7 linked regions of the Homo sapiens genome follow. The protein of the gene in region 1 interacts with the protein of each later gene in a biochemical or structural test. Each region holds a gene or a part of one and is shown on either strand. Other genes may lie near its edges.

Evidence for each region.
Region 2: the proteins of KAT2B (region 1) and IRF2 form a complex in vitro, tested with the Homo sapiens proteins (2 studies listed by BioGRID, with this or other methods).
Region 3: of the proteins of KAT2B (region 1) and RPS6KB2, one has a biochemical effect on the other in vitro, tested with the Homo sapiens proteins (one study listed by BioGRID).
Region 4: the proteins of KAT2B (region 1) and MAPK14 form a complex in vitro, tested with the Homo sapiens proteins (one study listed by BioGRID).
Region 5: the proteins of KAT2B (region 1) and TTF1 form a complex in vitro, tested with the Homo sapiens proteins (one study listed by BioGRID).
Region 6: the proteins of KAT2B (region 1) and SMAD2 form a complex in vitro, tested with the Homo sapiens proteins (one study listed by BioGRID).
Region 7: the proteins of KAT2B (region 1) and PLAGL1 form a complex in vitro, tested with the Homo sapiens proteins (one study listed by BioGRID).

The regions. Positions count from the first base shown.
Region 1 is NC_000003.12:20,151,675-20,154,904, forward strand, and holds the end of KAT2B (histone acetyltransferase KAT2B), read left to right. Parts: intron 1-657; coding exon 658-851; 3' UTR 852-2,730; downstream 2,731-3,230. UniProt on the Homo sapiens protein: Functions as a histone acetyltransferase (HAT) to promote transcriptional activation. Has significant histone acetyltransferase activity with core histones (H3 and H4), and also with nucleosome core particles.
Region 2 is NC_000004.12:184,464,551-184,468,050, reverse strand, and holds part of IRF2 (interferon regulatory factor 2), read left to right. Parts: intron 1-3,500. UniProt on the Homo sapiens protein: Specifically binds to the upstream regulatory region of type I IFN and IFN-inducible MHC class I genes (the interferon consensus sequence (ICS)) and represses those genes. Also acts as an activator for several genes including H4 and IL7.
Region 3 is NC_000011.10:67,427,331-67,431,293, forward strand, and holds the start of RPS6KB2 (ribosomal protein S6 kinase beta-2), read left to right. Parts: upstream 1-1,163; 5' UTR 1,164-1,215; coding exon 1,216-1,293; intron 1,294-1,651; coding exon 1,652-1,692; intron 1,693-1,789; coding exon 1,790-1,910; intron 1,911-2,196; coding exon 2,197-2,265; intron 2,266-3,963. UniProt on the Homo sapiens protein: Phosphorylates specifically ribosomal protein S6. Seems to act downstream of mTOR signaling in response to growth factors and nutrients to promote cell proliferation, cell growth and cell cycle progression in an alternative pathway regulated by MEAK7.
Region 4 is NC_000006.12:36,104,308-36,107,807, forward strand, and holds part of MAPK14 (mitogen-activated protein kinase 14), read left to right. Parts: intron 1-3,147; coding exon 3,148-3,321; intron 3,322-3,500. UniProt on the Homo sapiens protein: Serine/threonine kinase which acts as an essential component of the MAP kinase signal transduction pathway.
Region 5 is NC_000009.12:132,396,841-132,400,340, reverse strand, and holds part of TTF1 (transcription termination factor 1), read left to right. Parts: intron 1-82; coding exon 83-306; intron 307-2,014; coding exon 2,015-2,200; intron 2,201-3,500. UniProt on the Homo sapiens protein: Multifunctional nucleolar protein that terminates ribosomal gene transcription, mediates replication fork arrest and regulates RNA polymerase I transcription on chromatin.
Region 6 is NC_000018.10:47,812,160-47,815,659, reverse strand, and holds part of SMAD2 (mothers against decapentaplegic homolog 2), read left to right. Parts: 3' UTR 1-3,500. UniProt on the Homo sapiens protein: Receptor-regulated SMAD (R-SMAD) that is an intracellular signal transducer and transcriptional modulator activated by TGF-beta (transforming growth factor) and activin type 1 receptor kinases.
Region 7 is NC_000006.12:144,005,460-144,009,421, reverse strand, and holds the start of PLAGL1 (zinc finger protein PLAGL1), read left to right. Parts: upstream 1-1,162; 5' UTR 1,163-1,332; exon of another isoform or gene 1,333-3,962.

The sequences.
Region 1 (3,230 bases):
ATTTAAAGCAAGTAGCTATATTGGGAAATATTCTTTGCAATAGTCTCACAAGGCTTACTTGCTTTAGAAAATAGATTATTAAATGAAGTTTGTTATTCTTATTTCATTGATGGAGCTTGAAGCAAATTCATTTGAATCATTTTACATGCAAGGGCACTGGTGTGTTCACAGATGTATTTATTATCAGTTTCTCTATATGACACCAAAACAACTGTGAGTTTAGTGAAACAAATGCAGTCTGATTGTTTTAAGTAATTAAATGATTGAATACAAACGTTCCACCTGCTCTACTCCATATAGATAGAGCCTCTTCTGTATAATTCTGACTGAATAGCTAACAGTAGTCAGTTCATCATACTTATTGTTGCTAATCTACTTAGCTTCCTTGTGCTGAATAGGGGATTGAACCAGATGACTAATAATGGTCCCTTTAATGCTAAAATGGCTGTGATTTTACATTTTTAAAAAACCCACAAAAGAATGAACTTAAGATTTAAGAACTGTTTTCCTTGGTCATAAGAATTTCTCTTAAATAAAAGCATTGGGATGATAAAAATGTAATCAAACCAACAACATAGATTCCTTTCCCAGTCCCAGTTTTGTCAGCTGGTGTTTAAAGGGAGTCAAAGATTGCTAATATTTTTTTTTCCTGTGCAGATCTGAAAACCATGAGTGAACGCCTCAAGAATAGGTACTACGTGTCTAAGAAATTATTCATGGCAGACTTACAGCGAGTCTTTACCAATTGCAAAGAGTACAACCCCCCTGAGAGTGAATACTACAAATGTGCCAATATCCTGGAGAAATTCTTCTTCAGTAAAATTAAGGAAGCTGGATTAATTGACAAGTGATTTTTTTTCCCCTCTGCTTCTTAGAAACTCACCAAGCAGTGTGCCTAAAGCAAGGTGGTTTAGTTTTTTACAAAGAATTGGACATGATGTATTGAAGAGACTTGTAAATGTAATAATTAGCACTTTTGAAAAAACAAAAAACCTCCTTTTAGCTTTTCAGATATGTATTTAAATTGAAGTCATAGGACATTTTTATTTTATGGAATAGATTTTAATCTATTTACTACTATTAAGGTAAATTTTCTATGGCATGTCCATTAGCTATTTCATGATAGATGATTAGGGGTTTCCTCAAAACCTGTGTGTGAGGAAATTGCACACAGTAGCAAAATTTGGGGAAATCCATAACATTTTCAGACCATGAATGAATGTTTCCATTTTTTTCTAATGGAATGTGAGAGTTTACTTTTATTTTATTCTGAAGGACTTTAAGGAAGGGATACATGATTTTAAAAAAGCCTGTAAGAGGTGAAATATGTGATGTTTGAAGTCTCTTTATAGACTTTTTATATATATTTTTTAAAACACTCATCTAGATGAGGTGCTTTGAGCAGTTCTGAAAAATGCAGTTCCAGGAAAGCAACTGCTTTGGTTCCTAAGGAAGAAATTCTAAATAATGCAAACTTTTAAAATAAGCATCTAGGTTTTTGATAATTCTGTCTACTTACAACAAACTTGTTAGTACATAACCACTATTTTAATAATTATTTTCTCTACACAAATGTGTAATATCATATTTGACTTTGCTTATGCAGGCCATAAGTTCCAAAAGATAATTTCCCTGCCCACAAAGGCATAAACTTGAAAACACATGAGATTGAATCAACATGCTTTAATAGGAAAAGATGTATGGTCTATATATGTATCAATCTGGTGAATCCTCGTTCTAATAAAGGTTCTTTTTCTTTTCTATGATACACACAGCCACGCTGATAATATGCAAATGAACATTTTCCTTTATGTCTCTCCAGATAATGTTTATTGTCTGAGGTAAATTAAATTCCCACCAGGGTTTGCTGTCAGTATTTTAACACCCACATTAGTATATGCGTCCAGGGTCATAACCCCCTAAAATCCATCATGCAACCTTATTAATCTGTCTTGGGATTCCAGTTTAGTGCTTGGATTTATTTCCTGATTACACTACATAGAAAAGTGAGACATCTGCCATTCCCAACTCTGGGAAAACCAACTAATATACAACCATATAAATGAAGGCCATCTTGATGGTCTCAACACTAATTTTTATGATGCAAATTTATACACTGATTTTTGTAAAGGACAAAGTTTTAAAAGCGTATTTAACTTGATGTTTTCTATCAGCATAAATAAAATGGTCATGAATAGTCATTAAAAACAGTTGCCAGTGATAATCTGCATGAAGGAAAAAGAACCCTGCAAATGGCTATTGAGTTGGAAGTATTGTTTTTGATATGTAAGAGATATTCAGAATGCTCACACTGAAAATGCCTCAACTTTTTAAAGTGTAAGAAACCACCATGAGTGGTGTCTAGATTTCTAATGAAGAATCATGATACAGTTTGGATTAAGTATCTTGGACTGGTTTTAAACAGTGCTTTGTACCGGATCTGCTGAAGCATCTGTCCAGCTGGTATCCTGTGAAAGTTTGTTATTTTCTGAGTAGACATTCTTATAGAGTATTGTCTTTAAAATCAGATTGTCTCTTCTATATTGAAAGCATTTTTATGTTTTCTAATTTAAAAATTAATATTTTCTTATAGATATTGTGCAATAAAGCTGAAGTAGAATGTGTGGTTTTTGCAAATGCTTTAACAGCTGATAAAAATTTTACATTTGTAAAATTAATATATTGTACTGGTACAAAATAGTTTTAAATTATATTTTAAAAAGCTTCCAATCTTGTGGTGTGTTTTATTCATTCAGTAGGCTGAGGTTAACAGAACAAATTATGATCTGGTTGATAACCATCAATTGAATCCTTAAACCTTAGATCTTAAGCATTCTGTTGCATTTGGGGGAGGTTTCATAAAAAATCCATAGGTCATCAGTAAGAGATTTTCAGGAGAGACACTTACTCTGTCTTTTGAGTTATCCACTGCATCTTACCCACTCACCCGCTAAACAATAACAAAAAAGATTCATTGAAAGAAGAGTGTTGTTGGTTTAGAAATTAAAAGATTTTTGTTTTTATACTTTGCATCTGTGAAATATATATGATGAGAGAAAAATACAGCCGATTTTTAAACATCTCCCATATGAGCTTCTAATGTGATTCAAAATGATGTCTGTAGGAAAGAATACTATATCCTTTTGGGGTTTGAGAGGACCCAACCAAGAGAACCCCTCTTCCCTACTGAAATCTAAACCAACTGAGAAGTTAAAAAAAAAAAAAAAAGG
Region 2 (3,500 bases), on another chromosome or scaffold:
GCAAGAAAGAGCGGAGTTGACAAAGAATGGCTGCAGATGAGAAGCAGGTGTGTGAGGTTCCTTCTGATGATGGATTCTAAGTATTTTTATCCCAAAGGCAAGACTAATTTAGTTCAGCAAAATACCTTAATTTAGGATTTTGTGTGATAAAAGCCTGTCCTGTTTTCATTAAATGACGATTTTTGAGAATTAACTACTTGCTGTGTGATTTTCATAAATAATTTCATTTGGGCATACTTAACACTGTTGCTATCTGCTGAAGGCATTTGATACTCGCACACCTAATGCCATCAAAGGAGAGATGAGTATACACTTTAATTTGTTCTTATTGAGTGTACATTTTAATTGTTCTTATGAATGTCAGATTTTGGGAAGATCCAAAGAAGTACTCTGTAGACAGAATACGCTGTCCTGGCCCCCTAAGCTTAGAATCCTACCAATTTTCCCATTTCATGAGATTGACCTTTCAGATGAGGAGGGACTGCATACAAATTGCTTTATTTCAAGTAATATCTACCATGTTATTTTTGAAAGAATTCTTTTGTCCTTTTTACCCTAGATCTATTGGAAAAGATGAGAAAAATTACAGTGGTGATAAGAGTGTCTTAACACCTAGATATGATGGGTGTGTCGGGTGAAAGGATAGCAATGGGAGGCTGGTGGAAAGTGAGAGTTGGGGGATGGGGTGATGAGAAGGAAAATAGGTGACTAGTGACTCCTGGATTCTTGAATGGGAGAGAGTGAAGAGACAATCAGGCAGGGAGATTTTCTGTCTTTGCATAAATGTCACTGAAAGAGTTTTAGAGATCGGAGGGGTGAGGTGAAGTTGGTTAGGCAATTAGTGATAACTCAAGGACCAGTTGAAAGACTGGAGGACCCTCCACTGCTGACTGTGGGATCAGATCCTTTTATCCTGGGGATGAGAAAGGCTGATGGGAAAACTGCTAGGCAGCTGCTGACATTATACCACCAGGAAACATGAAGTTGTGAGTAGTTGTCACTTGGACATGGCTGAAGTCACCTTAGGGTACAGTGATGTTGCTGCATCACAACGTTTAGGTCATCAATGGGCCATACACATGACTGTGGCCCCATAAGATGATAATATCATACTTTTACCTTTTGCTATGTTTAGATACACAGATACTTGCCATTGTGCTACAGTGGCCTACGGTCCTCAGTACAGTAACCTGCAGTACATGTTTGCAGCCTGGAAGCCATAGGCCATACCATAAACCTGGGTGTGTAGGAGGTTATACCATGTAGGTTTGTGTAAGTACACTCTGTGATGTTCACACAATGACAAAATTGCTTAATGGTGCATTTCTCAGAATGTATAAGTGTGCTGATGTTGATGCATTGTTTGGGGATGGGGAAACTGATACTCACTATGTGAGGCCCCAAACTCAATCTAAAATTGCCTTTGGAGGCAACCACGGAAATACGGTAATAGCTCTCTTAGGCCTTCTCCCCCCGTACTGATCTTCCTTGGTACTGTTTTATTTTATTTTTAAACTCTTGAAATAATACATAATAGATGTATGTATTTTCAGGGCACATGTAATAATTTAATGCATTCATATTTGTAATTTGTAATGATAAATCAATGTAATTGTGCTATTGAGATTGTGGGAGGTAAATATGGAATCAGGGAAATAGAATGGGCTGATAATGTGTTTTCCTAAAGAACAGATGGGATTGGCCGTGCGCGGTGGCTCACGCCTGTAATCCCAGCACTTTGGGAGGCCGAGGCGGGCGGATTTCCTGAGGTCAGGAGTTCAAGATCAGCCTGGCCAACATGGTGAAACCCCGTCTCTACTAAAAATACAAAAATTAGCTGGGCATGGTGGCGGGCACCTGTAGTCCCAGCTACTCGGGAGGCTGAGGCAGGAGAATCGCTTGAACCCAGGCGGCGGAGGTTGCAGTGAGCCGAGATCGCACCAGCTTGGGTGACAAGCGTGAGACTTCATCTCAAAAAAAAAACAAAAAACAAAAAACAACCAGATGGGACAAGTTAAAACTGAACTATGAATTCCATAAGTGGGTAGTGTGGGTCACTGAGTGGGGCACTGAGTACTCCACAGTGACTGTAGTCAGGATTCTACATTGAAATAAACTTTCTGGAATTTACCTTGGTGCTATATACTTAAAGTCTTAAAAATGTTAAGCTCTCTGTTCCAGAAATTCTGCTTCTTGGAACCTACTTACGTGAAGTAACCAGAGATGGGAACAAAGATGTATGTACACGGATGTTTATTGAATTAGCTTTTGTTATGTAAAAACTTGGAAACAAGCTAAATATCCAACAATAGAGACACATTTGAACGAATTACGGCACATCCAGACAGACTATAGGTAGCTTATAAAGCTCGTGTTTTCGAGCAGCGTTTAGTGATGGGAAAATATTTATGATCTATGCTGATTGGGTGGGGAAAAAAGGATATGAAATTGTGCTTCTAGTTTTATTTTTAAAACATATGTGTATATTGGGGTATTTTTAAAAACCTGGAAGAAAACATATCTTTTTGATGGTGAAATTGTGGGTGTTTGGCTTTTTTTTTCCTTCTTGAAACATTTTTGTATTTTCCAAATTTAAAACAGCAAGCACAATTACCAATTACCCTTTTAACCAGAAAAATATTCTCAAGAGAGTGCTAATATGTCATCTCTGCCCTCACCTCTGGTCCACGTAAGGTTAGGAAAAACACACTGGGTGCTGCCGAGGAGGAGGCTGTGCATGGACGGGGCCATTCTCGAGCCTTTCTGCCTCCATGTGTGGAGCAGGCTCTAGAGCCAGGGCTTTCCTGGCCAGGCTCTTGGAAGCCTTTGTCCTCAGACAGCTGTGGCTACTTGGAGACACTTAGATTGGTGGCTTTTTGGTGAGGTTGGGACATAATGTTTTGTCAGTAACTGTGAAGGGCTTGAGATATGATTTCACTTCACAGTTAACATTCTTTATACATATGAATACTGCAGAAACACAAAACCCCTGGGTAGGAGAAAAGAGTTCCTTGTTGATATTTACAACTGGGGCAACAGCCTGAGTGACACTATTGTGTCAGGCCCCTAAACCTTGACCCTTAGGTGACACTGAAAACTAATGGAATGTACATGTGGGCTACACTTTGTTGACAGGGACAGAGCAGCTGTCCCTCTCCCGTCCCAAAAGGAGAGAGAGAGAAAAAAAAAAGAAGAAGAAAAAGGAAAACCAAACAGACAAACACCTTAGCTCCCCTGACATGGGATGAAAAGGTTCCAGGGGTCTTATCCTAACCTTTCAGAATGTGAGACACTTGTAACCTGGGGATGTCTCCAAGGTCTGTTTTTCATGCTTTTTGAAATACACATGCCTAGGGAGATACGTCTTCCCAGCACCTTGGGAACCAAGGTGAAATTATTTGGTCCTCTTGAGGAGATTAGAGGTTTTATTATCCTTTTGGAAAAGAGCATTTAATGTACACAAATGGCTACAGATCTAATTCTCATGGTAAGTGAAGTAT
Region 3 (3,963 bases), on another chromosome or scaffold:
GTGATCCGCCTGGCTCGGCCTCCCAAAGTGCTGGGATTACAGGTGTGAGCCACCGTGACCAGCCAGGTTTTCGGGTTTTATCTGTTTGAGACTTGGTCTCACTCTGCCGCCCAGCCTGGAGCGCAGTGGTGCAATCTTGGCTCACTGCAACCTCTATCGCCCGAGTTCAAGCGATTCTCCTGCCTCAACCTCCCGAGTATCTGGGAGTACAGGTGCGCGCCACCACACCCGTCTAATTTTTTGTATTTATAGTAGAGGCAGAGTTTCATCATGTTGGCCAGGCTGGTCTCCAACTTCTGACCTCAAGTGATCCACCCACCTCGGCCTCCGAAAGTGTTGAGATTACAGGTGTGAGCCACCGCCTCCGGCCTGTTTGTTTTTTTGAGACAGGATCTCACTGTGTCACCCAGCCTGGAGTGCAGTGGCACCATCATAGCTCACTGTAACCTTGAACTCCTGGCCTCAAGTGATCCTCCCAACTTGGCTTCCCAAAGTGCTACGATTACAGGCGTGAGGCATCGTGTCCGGCCTCAACAACGTTTTTTGAAGTGTCTATTCTGTACCAGGTGCCTAAATGTGCTTAAATTAAGAAGGGAGTAAACGCCAACAAAATCCCATATTTACAGGTCTATCACTGACCCCCAAAACCCTATTTAAGGCGGGAACCTGGCAACATAGCCTGGCAGTGAGCTGGCCACTCAGTAAATGCTCCGATTTGCAGGGTCCTCGAGCCAGAGGCACTTTGAGGAGACCCTGATGCAGCCGCCTCCCTTTCTGGAGTGAACCGAAAGCAACGCGACCTGCCTTTCATCACGCAGCCGGCCTGGCAGTACCCGTCTCCAACAGGGCTGGGGATTGCATTTACATTCACACCTGCATACACTTCCGACCCTGCTCCATCCAAACTCAAAACACCGTAGAACCAAAACGGGCTCCCAGAAAGCCTTGCTGGGAAGACCGAGGGTCCTGCGGAAAGGATTCTGCAGGCTGAAGGCTAGGCGCCTCGCCACTCTAGGACTACAATTCCCGAGAGGCCTTGCGACGGAAGCCATCTTTGTTCCCCACCAGGCTAAGCGATTTTCCGGAGGGGGAGTAAGATCCCTTGCGTCACCGGCGCGCGCAGCTGCCGTCGCGGAGAGATGATGTTTAGGTCCGGGACTGTCAGTCAGTGCGCGGCCAGGTACGGGCCGACGGGCCCGCGGGGCCGGCGCCGCCATGGCGGCCGTGTTTGATTTGGATTTGGAGACGGAGGAAGGCAGCGAGGGCGAGGGCGAGCCAGAGCTCAGCCCCGCGGTGAGTGCCCTGCCCTGGCGCGACTGGATCCTGGAGCCGATCCTGTCACCCAGCCGAGGCCGGAGCGGCGGCTCCGCACGCCCAGAGCGGGCTCCGACTCTTTGCAGACCCAGATCCTTCTCAGATCCCGGTCTCTATTAAGTTCTGATCCCACCCTCACCCCGACCTCTCTTCCAGAACCCCAGCCTTTTCTCCCGATTCTCCCTTTCCTGCCTTCGGTTTCTTCCCAATTCTTACCCATCCCCTACTAGCTGCCATCCCTGACACCCTTCTCTCCTGGGCCACGCAGTCCAACCTGAACGGGAGCGGGGAGGTATCCTGGCACCTTCCTTGGCTCTTACCCCTCGGTTTCTCACAGGACGCATGTCCCCTTGCCGAGTTGAGGGCAGCTGGCCTAGAGTGAGTGAGGGTCGTGTTGGGGGAGGGGGGAATGGAGTGGGGAAGGGGAACTGGGGAGCACTGGAGCCTTGTCCTCATTAACTCCTTGTGTCCGTAGGCCTGTGGGACACTATGAAGAGGTGGAGCTGACTGAGACCAGCGTGAACGTTGGCCCAGAGCGCATCGGGCCCCACTGCTTTGAGCTGCTGCGTGTGCTGGGCAAGGGGGGCTATGGCAAGGTAGGGGCGGGCGCACCCTCCTCCTGGCCTCACAGCCTCCATCTGGAGGCAGCAAAGGGTTCTCAAAACAAATTAGACTTGTGAATCAGCAGGGCCTCTAATGGGATTCAGAGCCAGAAACATAAAGGAGGGAAGGCCAAATCCTCTCCAATCGGACTTGAAATCTTCACTGCCCCACCCTTGGCAGGGCCTAGGCCTCCTGATCCCAAAGCCAGAGCTTCAGGGTGGGGCTTCTTGAAGATAGGATGTGGAGAGGGAAGTTGATCCTGTCTCCCCTGCCCTACAGGTGTTCCAGGTGCGAAAGGTGCAAGGCACCAACTTGGGCAAAATATATGCCATGAAAGTCCTAAGGAAGGTGAGTCACTCGTTCAGCCAACGAATACTGTGTGGCTGCCATTCCCAACATGCTGTACCAGGCTTTGGGAAGACAGCAGGGAACACAGTGGAGGAGGATCCCTGACTTTGGCGTTTGCTGGTTTATTGTCTGTTGTGATGTGTATTGTCTTGCAGTAATTCTCAATGGGGGCAATTTTGACTCCCAGCAGACATTTGACAACAGTGTCTGGACACTATTTTATTTTATTTTTTTTTAAGACGGAGTCTTGCTCTGTCACCCAGGCTGGAGTGCAGTGACGCGATTTTGGCTCACTGCCACCTCTGTCTCCCAGGTTCAAGCGATTCTCGTGCCTTAGACTCCGGAGTAGCTGGGATTACAGGCGCTTGCCACCACACCCAGCTAATTTTTGTACTTTTTTGTAGAGGTGGGGTTTCGCCTGGCTGGTCTCTAACTCCTAATCTCAGGTGATCTGCCCGCCTTGGCCTCCAACGTGCTGGGAGCTGGGATTACAGGCATGAGCCACCGTCCCTAGCTTTTTTTTTTTTTTGGATGGAGTCTTGCTTTGTTCCCCAGACTGGAGTGCAGTAGTGCACTCTCTGCTCACTGCAACCTCTGCCTCCCGGGTTCAGGTAATTCTCTTACCTCAGCCTCCTGAGTAGTTGGGACTACAGGCTTGTGCCACCACACCTGGCTAATCTTTGTATTTCTATTTGTTTACCTACTTATTTTGAGACGGAGTCTCACTCTGTCACTCAGGCTGGAGTGCAGTGGTGCGATCTCGGCTCACTGGCAACCTCCACCTCCCAGGGTGAAGTGATTCTCCTGCCTCAGCCTCCTGAGTAGCTGGGATTACAGGCGTGAACCACCACTCCTGGCTAATTTTTTTTTTTTGTATTTTTAGTAGAGATGGGTTTTTGTCATGTTGGTCAGGCTGGTCTTGAACTCCTGACCTCAGGCTATCCGCTCACCTTGGCCTCCCAAAGTGCTGGGATTACAGCCATGAACCACCGTGCCTGGCCTAGTTTTTGTACTTTTTAGTGGAGGCAGGGTTTCACCATGTTGGTCAGGCTGGTCTCGAACTCCTGACCTCAGGTGATTCGCCTGCCTCAACCTCCCAAAGTGCTGGGATTACAGGTGTGATCCACTGCGCCTGGCATGGACACATTTTTGATTGTCAAGGCAAGAGGGGAGTGTTACTGGCACCCGGTGGGTGGAGACCAGGGATGCTGCTGAACATCCCACGATGCGCAGGGCAGCCTCCCACAACAAAGAATGACCTGGTCCCAGGTGTCAGTAGTGCCGAGGTTGAGAAACCCTGTGTTAGAGGATAAACCCATCCCTGAAAATGATGGTGGCTGACAGCAGCAGAATTATGGAGAAATACAATGCAGTGACAGAGGATGCAGCAGTTAACAAACAGATGGATGGTCTGAGGAGCTCTGGTTGCCCCCATTTTTTTTTTTTTTTTTTTTTTGAGATAGTGTCTCGCTCTGTCACCCAGGCTGGAGTGCAGTGGCGTGATCTCAGCTCACTGCAACCTCTGCCCCTGGGTTCAAGCGATTCTCCTGCCTCAGCCTCCTGAGCTGGGATTACAGGCGTGTACCATCATACCCAGCTAATTTTTCTATTTTTAGTAGAGATGGGGTTTCACCATGTTGGCCAGGCTGGTCTCAAATTCCTGACCTCAGGTAATCCGCCTGCCTTGGCCTCCTAGAG
Region 4 (3,500 bases), on another chromosome or scaffold:
ATTATCTAGTTCAAGGGTCTGTGAGAAGCTCTCTTTGAGCCTTAAGTACTACAGGATGTTGGGAAAAGATGTTGTGTTCTTTCTTTCCTTTTTTTTTTGAGACAGAGTCTCGCTCTGTCGTCCAGGTTGGAGTGCAGTGGTGCGATCTCGGCTCATTGCAAGCTCCACCTCCCGGCTTTAAGTGATTCTTCTGCCTCAGCCTCCTGAGTAGCTGGGAATACAAGTGTGTGCCACCACACCTGGCTAATTTTTTGTATCTTTAGTAAAGACGGGGTTTCACCGTGTTAGCCAGGATGGTCTCGATCTCCTGACCTCGTGACCTGCCCGCCTCGGCCTCCCAAAGTGCTGGGATTACAGGCATGAGCCACTGCACCCAGCCCGTCGTGTTCTTTCTTGTCGTCATTCTGTTCTGAAGTTGTTTCATTTTATAAGCCTTAAGTTTTGAACAGGGCAGTACTCACTGACACCCTCTTAACAGACTCAGAAAGATGTGTTAATTCATTTTTTAGGGGGAGAGGGGAGATATTTGTGTTCCAGCAGCTTATTTAGGTCACATACCTCCTGATAGGTCTTCCCATTCTTTGAAATCATGACATTGAAACCTCCAAAAGAACTAGATACCACTTTGCTAATGAGTTGAAAGGAGGCTTTGGTCCATCTGGTGCTCAGCACTGTACTTCTCAGCATTTAAACGTGCCTTACAGCCCATTGCCAAACAGTGATGTCATATAATGAGGCTCCCCTTGCTGGGCAGATGGAGCACAGTGTTACTATCACAAGCTCGTGCCCAGCATATTAACTGAGCAGGAACATGCCAGAAATATAAATATTAACAGCTCTGTTTTGTCAGCCACTGACTTTGTTTCACTGCTATTCCCAAAACATGAATTAAAACTTAAATTACCCCTTGATGTTAGTGTATGTATTTATCTGTCAAGATTTTTTTTTTTTAAGAGATGGCATCTCACTCTGTCACCCAGGTTAGAGTACAGTGGCACAGTCACGGTTCATGATAACCTCGAACTCTTGTGTTTAAGTGATCCTTCCTCTTCCCTATCCCAAGTAGCTGAGACAACAGGCACATAATGCCATGCCCAGCTAATAAGATCTTTGAGGAATTTGTTCTTGCCCCTGACCTTATTGGTTATAAGAACATGGTCCTTTTTACCCTAAGGGTAACAGAGACTTGTCGTATAATCTGTGTTCAATTATAAAATCAACAGCTGATAAGGTTTCTTTTTCTAAGAAGAGAAGACCATCAGAAGAATATATATATATATAATCCAGGCATTCACCTAGTACTGTAAAGTGTAAACTTATGAACTTGAATTGACACATGAATATTTACTTTGTTTCTGTATCCCCTTGAAGCCCATATTTCTCCAGTGGATTACTCTGGAATTCAAGCTGTAGGACGGGTGTTTTACAGCCTCCAATATACACAGCAGTAGATCTCTATAGGAAGCTGTCCTCTTCACTACTCACCCCCACACCCTCCACATTTAAGGAGTAATTTGCAAAGTCTCAAAAGCCTTTTTCACCACAGTGATAACTGGTTATATGGCAGTATTTATTCTCCCAAGTGCCACCATGCTGAAACACAAAAATACTCATTTGAAATATAGAGTTAGACAAATTACCATTTTGTAACCCCTTATGAAATAATTGCTTTTGGGAAGGAAACCCAGTGAATGCAGAAAGCCATAAGTGAAAAGAATGGATATTTACTTGGTACCAAAATATCCCGCAGATTACTTGCTTTGGTCAAAGGGGAAACATCTTAACCCAGTGATCAATTTTAGCTCATTAGTAGTGGGACAGATGGCCTTAATGCACTGTCACGTGCACAGCATCACCTGTATTTTTGCTGAAAATGTTTAACCTGATTCTTACCAAAATTTTTGACCTAACTTCCGGTTTTTGGGAAGTACAGGGGATAGTGGAAAGCAGGGTATAGACACATGACAGCAAAAGAAGCAAAATCAGACACATCCCGAGAAACGGTCATTCTCAGGACAATCAGAGGGTCTCTTTAGATCAAAATCAGGAAAGAACAGGGCTTAGAAGTAAGAAGATTATTCTAGACTAAGAGAGACTAAAGAAAACCAGTCAGTTGCAGTGCATGGCCCCTAATTGAATCCTGGTTTCAACAAACTAGTTCTAAAAGACAACGTTGGAATAATTGGAGAAATCTTAACATGAACTGGATTTTAGATGATATTTAGAAATTATTTGTCAGAGATAATAACAGTATTATGATTATATAGGAAGATGTCTTCGTGTTGAAATATTTGGGGAGGGTAAAGTGTCATGTCTATAATTTTATTTTAAAACAGTTCAGAAAAAAATACATATAAATACAGAAATATAAAAATGTTAATTGTTGAATATGCTAGGCATATGAGTGTTCACTTTATCATAGTTTTTACTTTTCTGTTTCTGTATATTTGAAATTTTTCATAGTGAAATTTTTAAAAATAAAATTCCCTTTGATTTTAATACCATGTCTCACCCTCATCACCATGTAAAACCCCCAGTTTATTCACTGTTTGAAGATCTGTTGATGAATATTTGATGTTAGTAAATAAACAGCTTAGGGGGACAAAAAAAAAACAGCCCTGCCTACCTATTGTAGGTTACTTCAGCTGTAGGCTTTGTTTTATACAGTTTGACTACACTGGTAGCAGTTTGACATTGACGGTCCACAAAAGCCTGTTCAAACAGAATCCCAGTCATTTAAAAAAATTCTTCTTTAGTAACATATTCTTTAAAAATACAAAATACAGGAGGAGGGTGAGGGTTGAGAGATAACCTATCGGGTACAATGTTCACTATTTGGTTAATGGGCACGCTAGAAGCCCAGTCCCCATCAGTCCGTGGTGAGACCCATGTAACAAATGTGCACATGTACCCCCAAATCAAAAATAAAATAAAAAAATTTTAAAACATAGAAAATACAGATACACACACACACACACACACACATACACACATAAAGGAGAAGAGGGCTAATATATCCTAGAGTAGGTATTTTGGAGGAGAGTTCTTTGTTTGGATATGAAGGGTCAAAACTATGTTTGCTCAATAAGGCATACTTTTTTGTAACATGTTAAAAACTCTTTTCCTTCCTGTCTATGGTACTGATAGCTGTCGACTTGCTGGAGAAGATGCTTGTATTGGACTCAGATAAGAGAATTACAGCGGCCCAAGCCCTTGCACATGCCTACTTTGCTCAGTACCACGATCCTGATGATGAACCAGTGGCCGATCCTTATGATCAGTCCTTTGAAAGCAGGGACCTCCTTATAGATGAGTGGAAAAGTAAGTCCTAAGGGTAGGATTAACATCTTGAACCACTAACCAAAAGCGGTGGGAAAAATAAAAACTGAATGGTCATAACCAACTTGCTAAAGCTTGTAGATGAGGTCTCTAATGCAGAATGAATATGTTCTCTGGTGGAAACTGTTGTAGACAGTGATACTCTCTGGACCTTTGAGATA
Region 5 (3,500 bases), on another chromosome or scaffold:
GAAAAAAAAGAAGGAAAAATTTTAAAGTTATGAGGTCAAGTGATGTGTTAATGTTAGTCAACCCAATTTTCTAACCCCTTAGGTTAGAACCTGCAAATGAAGAACACAATGTGGAAACAGCTGAAGATTCCGAAATAAGATACTTATCTGCAGATTCAGGAGATGCCGATGATTCAGATGCGGATTTGGGTTCTGCCGTGAAACAGCTTCAGGAGTTCATTCCTAACATCAAGGACAGGGCCACCAGCACAATCAAGCGGATGTACCGGGACGACTTGGAACGGTTTAAGGAATTTAAAGCACAAGGTGAGCTTGTGGGGCCTTAGTGTTTGTTGAACTTCCTGTATGCAGAGCTAGCACCTAACTTTCTTTTATGGATGATTCAGATTTATAGATCGACAAGAAGCATTCTTTCTCCTCCTTCACCTCTATCTCCTACCAGAATTGTCCAAGCTGTAAAATTAGCAAAATAAAGTGCACTTGCTTTTCCTCTTCTTGCCCAGTTTCTGGTAAAGGTGGCCAGGAAGAATGGGGCTAAAGAGACCAGATAATTAATTCCCACTAAGAAGAGAAGGGACGAGAGGTTAATTGGTTGAGACACTGGAAATGATACAACAGTTATATAAAATTAAAATGCTGTCAAATTAAAATCAACTTTAATGAGGTATCGTTTCTTTCTCCAAGATATTAAATTGATGGTGAGCCAGTTGTGGTAGACTTGATCACCTTCTTGATTTCACTGTGTTTCTGAACCTCTCTTATTAAGAATTATTATTATTAAGAATAATAAATAACCTTTATTATTCTTAAATCCAATAATAAAGCTTATTGGGTTTAAGAATAAACTGCAAATTTAAGGCTGTATACTACAAATGAGCAATATTTACTGAGTATCTGTTGTGTGAGACCCAATACAACTGGTCATTGAAAAAAGTAAAAAGAGGAGTCATAACCTTCCAGAATTAATGGGATTGAAGAGATTCAGAAAAATAGACAAGACAAATTAAGCAAAAAAGACAGCACTACCCACGTACACACAATTATAGAGTGGTATAGAATCCCATTTTGGTGTATTGTGTTGAAATTTTTATGAGTATGTATTTCATAAAAGACTTTTTTTTTTTTCTTTTTTTTTTTTTTTTGAGACAGAGTCTTGCTCTGTAGCCCAGGCTGGAGTGCAGTGGCATGATCTCGGCTCACTGCAACCTACGCCTCCTGGGTTCAAGTGGTTCTCCCACCTCAGCCTCCCAAGTAGCTGGGACTACAGGCGCCTGCCACCAAGCCCAGCTAATTTTTGTATTTTTAGTTGAGATGGGGTTTCACCATATTATTGACCAGGCTGGTCTCAAACTCCTGACCTCATGATTCGCCTGTCTCGGCCTCCCAAAGTGCTGGGATAACATGCATAAGCCACTGTGCCTTGCCCATAAGATATTTTTAAAGTAAACCTAGGCCAAGTGAGGTGGCTCACACCTGTAATCCCAGCACTTTGGGAGGCCAAGGCAAGAGAATTGCTTGAGGCCTGGAGTTTAAGACCAGTCTGGGCAAAACAGCAAGACCCCGTCTTACAAAAAATAAAAAATTAGCCAGGTGTCACACACACCTGTAGTCCCAGCTACTCGGGAGGCTGAGGCAGGAGAATCACTTGAGCCCAGGAGTTCAAGGTTGCAGTGGACTTTGATCATGCCACTGCACTCCAGCCTGGGTGAAAAAGCAAGACCCTATCTCTAAAGAATGCATAAATAAATTTGAAAACTATTTTTTAAAAAGATAGATTAAACAGGAAAGGTCACTTTGGAATAGGATGACCCGGGAAGACATTGACAGAAGAGGTGTGGCTTGGGCTGAACCCTGAAGGAAAGGCCAAATCTGCAAGTGCGGGCAGGAGGGCGAATGTCAGGTGTTGGGACTGTTGGGCCGAGGTACTGTCATTGCTGATGAAAAACCAAGTCATAGGTTTGCTTTTGTCATTATTAACAATACACACTTTCTCCCTGTTCCTTCCCAATTCTAGGTGTCGCTATTAAATTTGGCAAGTTTTCTGTAAAGGAAAATAAGCAGTTAGAGAAAAATGTGGAAGACTTTCTAGCCCTGACAGGCATTGAGAGTGCAGACAAGCTGCTGTACACGGACAGATATCCTGAGGAAAAATCTGTGATCACCAACTTAAAAAGGAGATACTCGTTTAGATTACACATTGGTAAGTTTAGAAACAATCACCCTTTGACCATCCACAGCCTTCCAGCCATAAACAAGATAACCCATGGTAAGTGTTAGCACGGTACCTGGCCCATTGCCTGCAGGCGGCGCACATTAACTGCTGTGATGGCTGATGATATTCTTTTTTTTTTTTTTGAGACGGAGTCTTGTTCTGTTGCCCAGGCTGGAGTGCAGTGGTGCAATCTTGGCTCACTGCAACCTCCACCTCTGGGGTTCAAGTGATTTTCCTGCCTCAGCCTCCTGAGTAGCTGGGACTACAGGTGCCCACCACCACGCCCAGCTAATTTTTTGTATTTTTAGTAGAGACGGGGTTTCACCTTGTTAGCCAGGATGGTCTCGAACTCCTGACCTCGTGATCCGCCTGCCTCGGCCTCCCAAAGTGCTGGGATTACAGGCGTGAGCCACCGCGCCCAGCCCTGATGGTATTCTTATTGCCAGTCTGTACTTTCTGGGATTTGGAATGTGTTCATGTCTCCCAAGTTTAGGGTGAAAAATTAAATGATCAACTTTTACCTTTCTTCCTTGGCAATAGTTGTGGTTTTGGTTTCTCCTCCTGTTCCTTATTTATATTTTGTGTACGCTACACAAAGCACATCCTTATACGCACCATGGTCTCCCGTGTTTTTTAAGTGTGGCCATATGTGTGCTTTGTAACTGGAACCCTCCGACTGGAGGTGCTGCCTGTGAAGTTAGAAGGTCATGCTGTCATATGGGATCAGAGCGAAAGCAAATCTCTCTTGAATTTAAAGAGGATAATTTCTTAGGTGTTGTGTGGAATCCACGAAGAAAAGCAGGCTAGTACGCCCCCGTTGAGGGATTATTTCCCCTTAGAGTGAGAAAGTGAGAAAAGCTGATTTGGGAAAGATTATTGTTCATCTTCTGGAAAACTGTTACCCTGTATTCTCCACCGCAGTGTTCTCTTCCTCTTAATTCACATTATCTTAAAACTACTTTGCCTCTTAAGGATTCTTTCCACAAATTGCATAGACCGGAAGCTGAAGCCTCAGGGTACTAAGCATTTAGTTTTCGGAGATCTCCAAGGAAACTGGTGATTGTGTGTATCTGCTCTTCAAGACAGCTTTCTTAGGCCGGGCGCGGTGGCTCATGCCTGTAATCCCAGCACTCTGGGAGGCCGAGGAGGGCGGATCACCTGAGGTCAGGAGTTCAAGACCAGCCTGGCCACCAAATGAACCTGGCCAGCTGGTTCATTTGGTGAAGCAGCCTTCACCAAATGAAACAGCCTGGTTTCATTTAGTGAAACCCCGTCCCTACTAAAAATA
Region 6 (3,500 bases), on another chromosome or scaffold:
GCAGTTGCCCTTGCGTGCTGTACTCAGACTTGGAGGAAGTGATGTCTTATTCAAGGCCAGTTTTTGTACTAGTGGTTAAATAAATGGTTTCCAAATTGGAGTCAGAAGGAGAGCTTCTAAAATGTAGGTTCCCTGGCCTCAATTGTGAGATTCTGCTTTAGCAGGTCTGGAATTGGAGCACTGGGATCTGCATTTTCAGAAAACCCAAAATGATTATCAGCCAGGACTTAAACCTCTGCTTTAGACCACATTCCCTGTGGGCTTTCAGATTTTCTATCAATGTTCTTCCCTCTTCCCAGCTCCCACACATTAAAACTCAGATCATGCAGAAAAGAAGTTACAGTTCCTTCATTTCACATCAATTTCTCATGCATCCCATCTGGTTTTGGGAAGGTGTGGGACGAGGTGGATGGCCTTAAACTTGCCAATCAAAGATAACGTTCTCTTTCGATTCAAATAGCCTATCTCAGGCTTAAAACCATCTCTTTGGATAAATGCTCAGCTTTTCAAAGGTTCTTCCTAGCTTCTTCCTCATGATGGCATCTAGTGGGTGAGAACAGTCATCTCCAGGTGACACAGGAAAGAGTTTCTCTAATGTATGTGCTGAGGTCCTTGACGGTCCTGCTGCTGGTGCTCATCCTGCCATCTTTGCTGGATGTCACTGAGTCTACTGGGTAATGTAAGTGGGTCCCTGGCTTTTGTTCACTGCTGTCATGCCCTGCTCCTGACCACAACTCTGTCATTGCCTTTGGTCTCAAGGTCTCTACCTTAATAGCTTCCATGTCCCAACTATGGGACTGTTAATCTGCTGGGCTTTGGAGTGGGTGGGAAGGGATGATGTTGGAACTTTGGGATGTACTGAACATCTTGCTCAAGCTTTGGGAAGCCAACATTTTCTCAGACTGACTAGACACCTCCTTCCACCAATGCTGAGCTAGTGCTCCTGTGCCATACTGGGTAAGCCTCTAAGTCATGAGTAGGACTTTTTTGAGTGGCTTGCAGTCTTCCCCAGGCTATGCCAGGAAAGTAGTTGACTAACCCTGCTGCTCCAAGACTCGCATACCCATCCTGAAGTTTCCGTTTATTTCCCAACAGGGCAATTGCAATCTCAATCAATCTCTCCCTGCCCTGGGAGTCATTCCACTCCTGCCTAATGAAGAGACTCTTCTCACATCGTATTCTCAGTTTCTCTTATCCATGGTTAGGAGTAAAACTCATGTTCAGTTGTCCAAGCTTTGCTTTTAGTATGTGAATGGAGCTCTTAGCATGTAGAACTCCCTTCTCATTCTCAGTAAAGTCTGACTTTGAAGACTACTTATCATCTTCCTAGAGATGCCAAAGAATAATCAAGATAATAAAGGCAGGCTCTGAGATTCACAGCTGAGTAGCAACTGTGCTGTTACTCTAGTACACACCCTCTCCTTTCCTGTGACTGTCAGGCTTCAGGGCTTACCTTTATTGGAAAGACAGCAGGGGGGCATATATGAAGAAAATGGAATCTTTAATATTGTCAAAGTCTTGACCCAATAGAGACATTCTTGCCCCAGACTCTCTTGCTTCAGTGCCTTTGCCTGTTCTGGTCCTAAGTACCTTGAATATCCTTCTCTTGATGCCCTGATATAAAACTCTTTATTCCTCAAAGCCAAGTTCAGGTTATCACCTCCACCACAGACTTTTCTTTCCCTCCCCAAACTTCATTGCCTCTTCTCATCACTCCCTTTGTAATTTGTTTATACTGGTAAGAGAGCATTCATCATAATTAGGCCTATCTATGCCTACCTTTCTTGTTAAATTATGAGCTTTGTTCTGCCTTGGATATCTCTCTGGCTTGGATATCTCTCTGGCCTTTGCTCTGCACTTCCAAATGTATCCATTATTCAAGACCCAGGTTTCCAGCCTGATCAACATAGCAAGATCCCATCTCTCCAAAAAAAAAAAAAAAAAAAAATTGTGGGGCCGGGTACAGTGGCTCATGCCTGTAATCCCAGCACTTTGGGAGGCCGAGGCAGGTGGATCATGAGGTCACGAGTTTGAGACCAGTCTGGCCAACATAGTGAAACCCCATCTGTACTAAAAATGCAGAAAATTAGCCGGGTGTGGTGGTGTGTGCCTGTAATCCCAGCTACTCGGGAGGCTGAGGCAGGAGAATCGCATGAACCCGGGAGGCAGAGGTTGCAGTGAGCCGAGATTGCGCCACTGCACTCCAGCCTGGGTGACATTGCAAGACTCCATCTCAAAAAAAAAAAAAAAAAAAATTAGCTGGGCATGGTGGCAGGCACCTGTAGTCCCAGCTACTTGAGAGGCTGAGGTGGGAGGATTGCTTGAGCCCAGGAAGTCGAGGCTTCATGAGCCATGTTTGTGCTACTGCACTCTAGCCTGGATGACAAAGTGAGATCCTTTTCTAAAAATAAGGACCCAGTTTATTTTATTTAGTTATTTAGTTATTTTTGAGACCAAGTTTCATCACTCAGGCTGGAGTGCAATGGCACAGTCTTGACTCACTGCAACCTCTGCCTCCTGGATTCAAGCAATTCTTCTGCCTCAGCCTCTTGAGTAGCTGGGATTGCAGGTGCCCGCCACCACACCTGGCTAATTTTTGTATTTTTGGTAGAGACAGGGTTTCACTATGTTGGCCAGGCTGGTCTCAAACTCCTGACCTCAGGTGATCCACCTGCCTTGGTCTCCCAAACTGCTGGGATTACAGGTGTGAGTCACCCTGCCTGGCCAGAACCCAGTTTAAATTCCATCCTCTCTGCAGAGTCTTCCTTAACCACCCCTATTGAAAGTTACCCCTGCTTCCTACAAGAAGTGGTACTTGGATGTTCATGAGATACCTGTGCAAGGCTCCTGTGGGGGTCCTGGGGAGACAGTGACATGGACACTCATGAAAGGAACCTTGGAATAGCGAGTGTGTGTGCTATAAAATGTGCTTTAGATTTGATTACCACCACTTAAGTTATGAGCTCTGATATGGTTTGGGTCTCCATCCCCACCCAAATCTCATCTTGAATTGTAATCCCTACATGTTGAGGGAAGGAAGTAATTGTATTATGGGGGTGGTTCTCCCATGCTGTTCTCATGATAGTGAATTCTCACAGGATCTGATGGTTTTATAAATGGTAGTTTTTCCTGTACTTTCACACACTCACACTCTCTTCTGCCACCTTGTGAAGAAGGTGCCTGCTTCCCCTTCTGCCATAATTGTAAGTTTCCTGAGGCCTCCCCAGCTGTATTAGTCTGATCTCACGCGGCTAATAAAGAGATACCGGAGACTGGGTAATTTATAAAAGAGGTTTAATTGACTCACAGTTTTACATGGCTGGGGAGGCCTCACAATTATGGCAGAAGGTGAAGGGGGAGCAAGACACATCTTACATGGCATCAGGCGAGAGAGCTTGTGTAGGGGAACTCCCCTTTATAAAACCATCAGATCTCGTGAGACTTATTCACTATTACAAGAGCAGCACGGGAAAGACCCACCCCCATGATTCAGTTACCTC
Region 7 (3,962 bases), on another chromosome or scaffold:
ACCAGATCTTCTCAAACATGGCAGCACTCTATAAACCCTCCTTAGGAATATGACTTGAAAATGAAGGAAGTCCATCAAGAACTAAATAAAAATAAAAATTCAGGGATAGATAAGTTACAGTGAATATCAAATTCATTTAAAGATAGAATTAAGACAACATCTGGAAAAATAAAGTTGCAGAGCAATTGCAAATGTTCTCATTGCTAGGAAGCCGAAAGTAACAGAACTAATGGAAATTGAGAGGCAGGGTTACCCCCTAAAGGTAGGTGGAGGTGTATGATGCTAATTAACCTCATCTTTCAGAGCTATGAGACTTTCTAAACCCGAACATGTAGTGAGCTCCTTACACCTCTCTTAATCTTTTTACGTAATGCTTATAGGCCTTTTAAAAAGCACGTCTTTTAGGGAAGAAAGCAATAGAGATTCCCTTCAGTTTATTTTTCTTAAATTCCAGTAACATGAAAAATTTGAAATTATATGAAGCAGACGTAGTGTGATACCGTAATTAGAAAATTACTTCTGTCTACCCTTTCTGCGTCTTCGTTTCTTCAGCTGTGAGACGGGTATTTCTCCCAGTGTTGCTGTGAGGATTACACGTATTTACCTGCAAAGTGCTTAGGACAGTGCCTGGCTCACGGTCAGTGCTCACGTTTGGGCAGCTGCACTTGGGCGCTGCTGGCACAGGAGGTAAGTTAGTTTGGCCTATTGCAGCGTCCCAGCATCTGTCGCGTTTCTCATGTGTGATTGGGCTCTGGCGGCCCATCCTGGCGGAGACTTCGGCTAGCAGGCCCCGCTGCAGACCCCAGGCCGGCTCGGGTCTACCTGCGCCAGCGCTGTACCTGGGCGACCTTGGCTTTGCCCCCACCGGTGACCCGGCCCGCAGGACGTGTGGGTGCCGCTCAGCTCCCCCCGCCTCGGCCGCCGACCCCCAGCTCCCCGGCGGGGCCTCCTCCTGCCACGTGACGCCCCCGCCAGGGGCCCCAGCGCCCTCCTCGCGGCCGCGCCGTTCCGGCTCCCGAGCCCCGCCTGCGCGCGGCCTCCTCGGCGCAGCCATCCTCTTGGCTGCCGCGGGCGGCAAAGCCCACGGCATCTGCCATTTGTCATTCAGCCCGTCGGTACCGCCCCGAGCCTTGATTTAGACACGGCTGGGGCGTGCTCTGGCCTCACTCTCCGGGCGGGTGCTGGACGGACGGACGGACGGGGCAGCCGTGCTCACAGCTCAGCAGCGCGGGGCCTTGGCGCGCGGGGCGCTTCCCCGGGTCGCCGTCATGGCCGCGGAGGTGGCACGCCCGAGCGGCCTCGCCTGAGCTCCGGGGGTCGTCGCCCCGCAGGGTAGGTGTTTGGGTGCTCGCGGCTGCGGCGGGCGGGCTGGGGGCAGCGGTGGCCGTGCATTGCCGCGCTGCGAGGACGGCGCTGGGTTCGCGGCCGCGAGGAGGGTGTGCCTTTGCCGCGCCGCCTACGTGCGGGTCCGGGCTCCGCGGGGCCGGGTGCGGGACCCCGCAGATCGTCACCCGCAACCCAGGCAGCCCCACCGCGAGTGCCGCCGGACCCCCTGGACGCCGCTGCCAGAGGCGTTCGCGCCTATCTGGTATGAGGTCCACAGACCCGATTCTTACAACCTGGCGCTCTAACCTCGCCAACGGGCCAGGAAAAAAACAGAACAAGGAAAAGAAGAAAAAGTCTGTTCCAAGTAATAATGGGACTAGACAGTAACTGTTTGCACTTTCGTCTCTTATGGAAAATATGATTATTTTGATGCTTTAGTATTACAGACTGTATCAGACATACTCTTAAAAGTATTTAAAAACGTGGGGTCCTAAAAATTTCCTAGATCGGGACAGCTGATAATGCGACTTCTGTTAGTCTCCGCATCCAACTTTCAGGGCGGAATGGGGATTTCTACCTTTTACTGAATATACTCCTGTAATTTTGAATATTTTTTCTCATCAAATGTGTTACTTTCATGTTTTAGGAAACCAATAAAAATCAAAAATAGAAACACCCAGCTTAGGTCCTCCTTCTTCCAGGAATCCTCCTCTAACCCCTCCCTCCCAGGCAGGATCGGAGGCCCCTCCCGGGTGCTTTCTGGGGCCTCACTGAGGTCCTGGTCCCCTAAGTCCTCCCCCGCAGCCCCTCCGCGTATTAACCCACCGGTCTCGCTGGGCTCAGAGATTGCTTACTTAGCACATGGTAAGTGATTAATACTGTTTAATGACCGAGGGAAAAGATAAAATGTTCTCTGATGTTTCACGCTTTTCGCTCTGAAGTTAAATAGTGGTAAATTTATATGCGCTTAGATAAGAACATTTAACAGTTAAGGATCTGGAAAAGTTGACGACGTCCGATGTCCGTGTTTCCTGATCCAGCAGTTGCACGCCTGGGTATTCATCCTTAAGAACAATGTTTTTCAGAATTTGAAGTCCATTTTAGTGGGTCGTAAAGTCATTTAAATGGATGATCAGAATTTGTAAAACACAGACGGAGAATAGAACATCAGTGTCTCTCAGGTCATAGGGGTGTTCGCTTTATGAATCTCTCTCCCCCTCCTCAGTTTCATACATACACAAATGTGTGTCATGATGTAAAACGTCATTCCTTAGTATGAGTCATGGACAAAAAAGTTTGAAAGCCACTGCCCTAGATAAATTTTAATACATGTCCACAAGCAGACGTGTACAAGAAGGTTGACTGTAATGGCAGAAAACTGGATGCCGCCTTCATGCCTACCTGAAGGAGAAAGATAAATTATACACCACTCATAAAAAGGGCACACTGTACAGTGGCCAATGAAGTATTTTTGTGTTTCAACACAAATGCCTTTCAGTGTTGAACCAAAAAAAAAAAAAGTTGCCGGAGAATGCTGTGTGATATCTTCTATGTAAAATTCAGAACCTGGTGGAGCAAAGCTGTTGTTTAGGGATGCATGTATAGGCATTAAAAGTAGTAAAGAAAAAAAGTCAAGCTAATGGTCATCTCCTAGTGGGGAGGAGAGGGTCAGGGGCTCAGAGATGCTGGAAATGCTTTATCGCCTGACCTGTGCAATGGTTACATGGGTGTTTGCTTTGTAACTCTTTGTTAAATGATACACACTGGGTTTGAATGTTACATTTCCCCCCAAATATGTTAAAATATGGGTGTTGCAAACTGAAGAAGCCTGAGTCTAGGGCTCTCCGTCTGTTATTCTTATTTCCTGGCTTCTTTTTAGAAAAAAAAAATCTTGCTCAGGGAGGAGTACCTAGGGAATTTATCAGTAATGTTTTATTTCATAAATTCCATGGTGGACATACCAGTATTCATTAAATTATTCTTTATGTATTCTTATAACTTAATTTATAATATTTCAAAAAGCATTTAGGAGAAAACATCATTTGGTGTGTTTGCTTTCCCAAAAGTCACATTTACATGTTTTGTACACAACTGGAATATTTTATATAGTAATTTTAGCTAAAATCAAATTTTGTTATGAAAAACGAAATACTAAAAAGTATATAAAAATCACAGAACTTTACAGACTTTCAGCGTTTTAAAATGCTAACATATTGTATTTACCTCAATAATTTCTGTTCCTCAGTTCTTTCAGGCCACATTTTTAGTGCTCAATAGCCTCATATGACTTTAATATTTTATTATATTTTATTATGTTATATATTTTACATTATACATTATAGAACAGAATATTTCCATCATTGCAGAAATTTATATTGGAAAACATTCTGGATACAAATATTTGTTATATACTTGCAGATATTAAACTGTAGACATTAATCCTTATGCTTTTTGTCTTAAGATACTCTACTATTAATGAAATGTATTCTGAATATTTTTCTAAGAATTTTTAAGTTTATGTTTTGTCCACATTTTGTTCTTTAATTTACCTGAGACATGTATATATTGAGATGTATATATTTTATGTTATGAGATCAAGCTTAATTAATTTTCAGATTCCCACATGAAAAGGTAAT